Linked DNA regions of Homo sapiens: region 2 is linked to region 1. Evidence: fine-mapped expression QTL. A gene starts in region 1. The other region holds a variant in brackets. All regions are shown on one strand. Distances are from middle to middle. Region 1 holds the start of DPYSL3 (dihydropyrimidinase like 3). Region 2 overlaps DPYSL3 (dihydropyrimidinase like 3).

The links. PIP is the estimated chance that this variant, and not a neighbour inherited with it, causes the effect. A credible set is the group of variants that fine-mapping cannot tell apart.
Region 2: its variant is the best candidate, but not a certain one, in a credible set for the expression of DPYSL3 in lymphoblastoid cells (GENCORD, PIP 0.59).

What each region holds. Positions count from the first base shown.
Region 1 is chr5:147,507,460-147,511,715 of GRCh38, forward strand. DPYSL3 (dihydropyrimidinase like 3) reads right to left here and starts at 2,609. Exons shown (of 14, transcript NM_001197294.2): 1 at 2,019-2,609. The coding sequence starts at 2,399.
Region 2 is chr5:147,480,281-147,484,536 of GRCh38, forward strand. All of the region lies in intron 1 of DPYSL3 (dihydropyrimidinase like 3), which reads right to left. Among named protein-coding and RNA genes, the nearest start is that of DPYSL3, 28 kb to the right of the region's middle. The variant A/C (reference allele first, on the strand shown) is at 2,386.

The DNA of each region.
Region 1 (4,256 bases):
AACAGATGGTTTAATTAAGGAGGTTTAGTGTATCAAACATTTATTGAGCACCTCCAATGTGCCAAGCATTCTAGCCACATAGATAAATCCAAATACACAATCTCTACCCTCAAGGAAATAAACAACAAGTTCAGAACTTGATAACCTCCGTGGTCTCTTCTAACAGTGTGATTCAACCAAATTAGAGATAATAACATGGCCTGGATGAAGCAGATGGCAAGCCCAAACTTACAAATGACTATGTAGCACTAGAAATCCTGCTGATGCCTAGGTTGTATTATTATTTCTCAATTAGTAGCCAAAAGTATAGGGTTTGCAAAAGGGAGGAAAACGGGAGAATTGCTAGGTTTAAAGGAGGAATATTTTCCCTTTCTCTAGTTACCATTCTTAAATCTTGCAAACCCAGCATATTATCTGGCTTACATCAGGGGTGTTTCAGCAAAGGGAATAGCACTGACTCACAGCAATTGTTACCGACCTTTTCCATCACTACTCCCGCCCGTTCCAGTCAGGAAGGGAACATTTCAATATGGACAAGTCAGACATGAAGAAAGGAATAACCTTTCTATAGGGTTCTTCTTCAGTTTAGATATCAACCAAAACATTTGCAAAATATCAGAAGTTTTCCCTAAAACGTTGGTAAGCAAGGGCTTAGGGGAATCACGCACTAAAAGGATGATGTGAAAATCACAAACTAAATGAATGATTTCAGAGGAAGCCGACATTGTTTTCCAAGTGGTACCCTTGAACAGCACTAACTTCAGCACTTATTTTCCCTGGTGGTCTTAGTAGTCAAAGGTTGGTTGGTTGGTTTGTCTAAACTTTCAAAAATCAAACAGTGAACAGAGATGCTGTTCTTTCACTAGCTCATTGCATTTTAATGGAAAAACAACTAAAACCTGAATAAGCATTAACTGTAATTGCTCTGAGGCAGACATTTCCATTTCAGGTTGTTATTCCTAACCATATTAGTGCAGAATAATACATGCGGATGGATTTTGCGGCCATTACCTAGACAAGGGTGAGGGCATCTGATTATTATTATTCCCCAACTGAAAGCTTCAGTTTGAACTCTGAAGTCTCCAGCCCTGCCAGGCCCTGCATTTTCTGAACTACATCTCTGAGTCTCTGTGAAATAGACACATAAATCAGGGCAAGCTAGATTTCAATGCCATCCCTTCAGTCAGTTCAGTGTGACATAAGTTTCTCAAAAATACACATACAGAAGAAATTGGCTTTGGCACATTTAAGAGCAGCAGGGAATTTGCATCTCATGCTAGTTTAATGTGCACTCTTAATACTCTCGTCTATTTTCTAAAATATAATGCTATTCTTGCAGAGGCAGCTGGACCCCTGTAATACCCAGTCTTGTGCCAAGCTATGTACACAAATACACTCTTTACAAACACAGATGTGAAATGCCGTGCTAAGACACAAGCGAGGCATAGAGAGAGATTCGCGTGTTTAGTCTAGAGGCTCCACACCCAAAAGTTTCAGGGACAGAGCTGATGTTTGAAGACTGAGAGGGGAGACCGCCCCTCCAGTACTTTCATCCGGGCACTATGGAGATGACCCCCATATTCCCAGCATCACTTTGCCCTCTGCCGTGGTGACCCGGGTTGAGATTTAATCTAGGGCCAGAGGGGGGCAAGACAATTGTGCTGTTGGCTACTAGAGAGAAGAGCTGGAAATCACTAAGCCTTCCCGGGCTGACACACCCACCCAGACCGGATGGCCCAGGAGTGCGGCGAGGAGGCAGGGGCAAAGGACGCGGCTCCAGGCAGGGGAACCCGGGCATCCCTTCCGCGCTTGCACGAAGATGCTGCAAGTGGCGACACGCGCGAATCCAGGGTCTGGGCTAGGAAGTCGCGCTACGCTCAGTGGAGGATGACCCTTTCCTCCTCCTTGTCCCCCAGCCCCGTGCAAAGTGAGCTGGAGAAAGTTGTGCCCGGGCCATGGCGGCCAGGGCTGGAGAAAGGAACGAAGGCAAGGAGGGAAGTGACCCGGGGCCCCCTTACCTTGTCCTTGGGGCCGAGGTTCTGCAACACCTCTTTGCCGGTGGCGCTCCGGATCTCTACCCCGGCGGGGGCGGGGGAGGCGGGCGCGGGCTCCCTGCTCTCTTCCCGGCCTTGGCCCCTGCGCGGGGTGTCCCCCTCGATCCCGGGCCGACTCCCCGATCCTCGGTCGCTGCCCTGGCCGCTCCGAGGAGTCTTCGCGCCCCGCTGCCCCACGCTGAGGGCATCGAAATCCAGCGTCTTGCTCTCGAAGGCGCCCTCCACGTTGCAGAACATGCCGCCGTATTTCTGCCGCGGGACCTGGTCCGTGGTGCCCGGCCTGGCCAGGTACACGGGCAGATCGTCTTCGTGGGAGCTGTCCCAGCCCCTCCGGCCCGAGGCCATGGTTCAAGCACGAAAGCGGCCCGCGGGTTTTTCTTCCCCAGAGGCGGAAAGGGCAGCCGCCGGCAGCGTGCGCCGAGCCACAGTGACTGTGGCGGGAGGAGGCGCCTGAGCCTTCGCGCCAGAGGCGGCAGTGCTGCTCCGATTCCTGCTTGTCCCTAGCGAGCCAGCGAGCCACACAGCCAGCTAGCGCGCGGAGCAGGGGCCCAGAGTAGCGCCGCGCTTGGCTCACTCGCTGGACCTCTCGCCCGGCCGCACCTCCTCACGCACCCCCAACCCTAACGTGGCCTCCCGGGCTGACGCAGCGTCGGTGCCCATCACAATCACAAACCAAACTTGGCGCGCGCGCACACGCACACACAGGCGCACACTGCCCGCTCGCGCAACAGCCTTGCCTCACACACTTTCGCGCAATTTAGACGTCTTAGAAATGTTCACACTCCAGCACTTGACTGCTTCACCCACACTAACTCCCTAGTTTGCCTCACAAACACAAAGCTTTCTGACGTCCCTCGTGCACAAAAACCCAGCTGACCCAGGTGGATTCATCTCAAAGCCAAGTCCTGATTTACAACTAACACATACAAACTCAAATTTACGACAGACTCACAATCCTACCCGGAACCCCGGACTTGCCTCATCCTGATCTTTAGGATGACACTCATAACTACACCCAGTTCTAGAATCTGCCTTGCAAACCCACACTCTCACATGAAGTCCTGAATTGGCTTACACACACAACACAAACACACACTGAGAGAGAAGCCCTCTTACTTCATTGAGAGTCACAAAAGCCCTTTGGCTCACATAAGCCCTTTCTTAGCTTCTATATAATATCCTAGTTTGCTTTTTACCACCCCTAATTTGCCTCATTTCAGATCACACACACACACACACACACACACACACATTCTTAGGTTTTGCCTTGCAAAGCACTCTTCATTGATGCTCTGTCCCTCATACAACAAACCCCAGATTTTAATCTCACACACTGACACAAGTCCAGGTTTACCTCAGTCGGAACCGACACTTAGATTCACACCTAAGCCCAGATTTACTTCAAAAATCACACAACCAAAGACTTTGCTTTTCATGTTACCTCAGATGTATGCAGACTTTACTTATGTACATCTGTGCTTTCATAACCTCATTCTCTTCCCCACGTCCACCCACGTATACTCTGACGCCGACTCTGCCACATAAACAGAACCTGCAAACTACATACCTTACATCATATCTGCACACACCACCTAAACCCAAAACCTGTTGTGCCGGATTTAACTGTGCTCCCTCTCAGAAAGTCACCCATTTATTTATTTAGTCAACCAACATAAATCAGGTACCCACTATGGCTTTCACAAGATGCTGGAGCAACAGTGTCGAACAAGAGAGATCGGCCTGTCCTCACCAAGAATGTAGTCTATTACCACCCATCTAGGTAGCACAGCCGTTCACTGTTCTGCTCAACTTACAGAACTTTGTTTATTTTGTGAACTAAACACTCCCCCTCCCAAGTATGGACACATACATGCTAAGCTCCATAAAGGCAGAGATCTGGTCTGTTCAGTTCACCTTTGTATATCTTGTGCCCAGAACATCTACAGGCACTTGATACATTCTTTTTGAACAAATGGAGGATAACAATAACAACGACAGCAGCACCAGAAAATGTTTATGGAGTTATTGCTATGTGCCAGTCATTATTATAATTGTTTCACATATATTAACTCATTTAATGCTCATAAGCATATGGCCGGCTTCTTTGTGCGCATAGACATACTCTTTGAAGGCATCCACATAGAATTTGATGAAATTAACCTTTGAACTCTGATTTTGGAGTGGAACAAAGGCTCCGGAAAC
Region 2 (4,256 bases), 27 kb before region 1:
GTCAGGTAGAGATCCCTCCTCCAAAATCTGGGCAATGAACCTGTAGGGCAGCACCCCTCCTTATTCATTCAGCCTTGGGTGGTTGCCACTTCCTCTAGTTATTTTCTCTGGATTAACGTCTATGTCTCTTTTCGCTCTTTCAACTTCCAACATGTGTATAATCGACTCTCTGTATCAAATCCCCTCTGTCTGAAGCACCTAGTAGGGTCTCTGTTATGGTGGCTGAACCTAGACTGATATGGCTATGTTAATTATCTTGTCCAATGTCACACAGCTGGTAAGCAGCATAACCATTACTAAACCCAGGTTTTCCACAGAAGTTTAAATGGGCAGCTTTATCTGCTGTAGGAAGCTAGGACCACAATCAATACAGATTTGTTGAAATGAACCAATTTCTTAGTGCACACATCATGAATATATATATATTATTATTATTATTATTATTATTATTATTATTATGAGAAGGAGTTTCTCTCTTGTTACCCATGCTGGAGTGCAATGGCGCGATCTCAGCTCACTGCAACCTCCACCTCCCGGGTTTAAGCGATTCTTCTGCCTTAGACTCCTGAGTAGCTGGGATTACAGGCATGTGCCACTACGCCCGGCTCATTTTGTATTTTTAGTAGAGACAGGGTTTCTCCATGTTGGTCAGGCTGGTCTCAAATTCTCGACCTCAGGTGATCCACCCACCTTGGCCTCCCAAAGTGCTGGAATTACACGTGTGAGCCACCACGCCTGGCCATAAATCTATTTTTATTAAAAATAAAACATATGTATATAATGCTTTAAAGTTTACAAAAAATTTCATACGCATTATTTCATAAAATTCAGAGAGGAAATGTAGATAAGGGTGTAACTTTTGGGATTAAACAGTCCTTGGTTTAATCTCAGTTCTGCCACATAATAGCTGTGTGACAGTTGGCAAGTCACTGAACCTTGTTGAAACTGTTTTTGTTATCTATGAAATACTGTTACTAGAATCTACCTACCTCATAGGGCTGCTGTAATAATTTAAAATCATATGATAGAATACACTACAATGTAATATATTACACATAATATGTCAAGAACTGTGTAGGGTCTGAAGTTTTATATTACTTACAATCTAACAAATTAGCCTGTTACTATTTCATGGATGCTGGCAGAAGACAGGAGGTTCCTGGGTCAGAGACAAATGACTTTATTACTCATGAAAAAGCATTAGCTAGAGTTTTATGTTGGCTTTCTTTGGTTGCCCACACCTCCCAAGTCTCACAGGGATGATGCAAAAGGCTTGCTGTGGTTTGAATATGTTCACCAGAAAGTATGTATTGCAAACGTAATCCCTAATGCAACAGTGCCTGAAGGTGGGGCCTCATGGGAGATGTTTAGGTCATGAGGGCTCCACCCTTATGCATGGATTAATGGCAATTATAAAAGAGCTTGAGGCTGTGAGTTTGAACTCTTGCTCATTTTTGCCTCTCTTGCCCATCTGCCTTCTACCATAGTATGACATGGCACAAAGGGCCTTGCTAGATGCCAGCACCATGCTCTTAGACATTCCAGGTTCCAGAATCATGAGCTAAATAAATTTATGTTCATTATAAATTACCCAGTCTCAGGTATTCTGTTATAGCAGCACAAAATGGACTAAGACATGGTTCAACACAGATGCCAGATGCCTGCACATACAGTGGGTTGTGTTACAGGAGAATAATACTGATGTAGGAAGATTTGCCACTTTTACAGTAAGAGGAAGCAAAACTACTCTTTGTCTAGGGGAAACATTACCTCATCACTCAAGATTGCTCACTAAAAACATAACCATGAGAAATGATCCAGATAAAGAGCAGTCAGGGCCTCATATTTTTGTTATAACCAGCAACAACATGCAAGGATACCCAAAACCCATGGTTCCCTGCCTCTCCCAATGTAATTTACCAAGGACTTAGTAATTACACGATAAACAATAGCTATCAGTTTGGATCTCATAAAACCCAATCATGAAAGAACCCTTTTCACAATCTATAGATTTGAGGAAATCAGCTCAGAGAAGTAAAATGATTTGCTCAGGGGTAATACCCTTTGTGGAAGTGGTGGATCTGAGTGTTCAAAAATCAGAAATTATGACACCAAATCCCATGGCCATTCTTCTCCATCTAGATCTATATTTGTAAGGATAGGTGGCACACACCATCAGCTCAGATTGGCCACATAATGTGTGGAGCTCAGTGCCAATATTTCTAGAACTCTTGAATTTTAGAGCCAGAATGGCCCTACTTATAATCTATTCTAGTGATTTCCCAACTGTGTTCACCAGAGACCGTTTTTTCCACTGAGCTTCCTCAGAGGCCACCAAGGGGTAGAGGCTGGGCACATAAAAGGAAGGTTGAGAAAGTCTCTATC[A/C]AAGCAGTTTCACTTGTATTGAGCTTACGCATAAGATTACTTCTGATTTTTTTTTCTAAAAGAAGGAGGTTGTATTAGTCTGTTTTCACATTGGTATAAAGATACTGCCTTAGACTGGGTAATTTATAAAGGAAAGAGGCTTAATTGACTCACAGTTCTGCATGGCTGGGGAAGCCAAAGGAAACTTATAATCGTGGCAGAAGCTGAAGAAGAAGCAATTACCTTCTTCACAAGGAGGCAGAAAAAAGAAAGTGTGTGAAGGAGGAACTGTCAAACTCTTATAAAACCATCAGATCTCGTGAGAACTCACTATCATGAGAGCAGCATGGGGGAACTGCTCCCACGATCCAATCGCTTCCCACCAGATCTCTCGCTTGACACGTTGGGATTACAATTCAAGATGAGATCTGGGTGGGGACACAAAGCAAAACCATATGGCGGTGCTCACAGAAAATCTCACATTTAACTCAACTATAATTATTTCAACAATGGAGAAATTAAGGCCCAGAAAGGTAAAGGGATATGATCAAATTTACATGGTGAGTAACAGATCCATGTCTCACCCTCACTTTCCGAGCTTTCAGCGAATGCTTTTTAGTTAGAGCTGTTATATAATAAGAGGTACTTTTAAAAGCAAACAGTAGCAAGACACTAACAGGAAGCCAGGTGCTTTGAATTGCCTGGCCAGACATGACAATGGCCCCGGCTAATGTAACACTGTGTTTGAAATCAGAAAAGCTTGATGTGACTTCCTGATAAACTGTGTAATCAGCTGATTGACGTCCATTCATTCACTACTTCATTCCAATGTTTATTAAGGGTCTGTATATGCCAGGCACTGTTCTAACTCCCAGCTACACAACTGTGGAAAAGATAGATTTTGAATGAGTTACTCAGACTTTCTCATTTATTTATTCAAAAATTGGTAATGAGCATTTACTATGAGTCAACCCTGTGGCAGTGGTAAGGACACAGCCTTCAAAGGAATCTCAGGTGAGTGGGAAAGGGGTTAACAAGTATTTATTACACAGAATAATGAGTATTAAATAGAGGTGCATTCTGAAGCATATAGGTGGACCTCACCCGGAGAAAGGTCTCAGAAAACTTAAGATGAAGATGAGATCTGAACAAGAAGGAGTTAGAATAGCTCAGTTATCATATCTGTAAAATGAGAATAACTCGATTATCTCATCTGTAAAATGGGAATAATATCTCCCCCCCAAGGGATACTGTGAAGGCCCAATGAGCTACATATGTGAAAAGTCCAGCCTGGCACTGAGGAGTGAACATTACACGTCACTTTCCATCTCTGTCTTTGAACACACAAGAGTTGACCAGGATCTTAGGTCTGTCTCTCTGTCTGTCTGTCTGTGGCTAATGACCTGTGAAATCAGCAGCCCACATAATAAGAAATCTTTGTCTCTGGCCTCATTAGAACCAGGTTCCCGGCAAGTAACCAGTTCCAGACACTGGCCTTGGAAGGGAGCCCGTGCTGCTGGCCACTTCATTTGGGAATTTCATCCTGTTTGCAAAGATTGCACCAAACAGAATTTTTCTCCTAAAGTGGTTTCCTCCCCCATCCTCCTCCCCTTCACCAAATGATTTATGTCTCGCTGAGGGCTTTTCCCCTTCATAGCCCATCTGGCCTTCCTGCCTCAGCCTGCAGGGAGGGTGTAATCCTGTGTTTGCAGCTTTACAGATGGTTTCTATGGAAATTATGACAATATTACAGCTATTGTGGAGCCACATCACTGCTGACTGAATGAGGAGACAGGACTTGAAAGGGGAAATTTGGAATTAAATATCAACAACCTACGTCCTTAGAGACAATGACTGGTTTTCATGGAGCTTTTCCTATCAACAGTAACAAA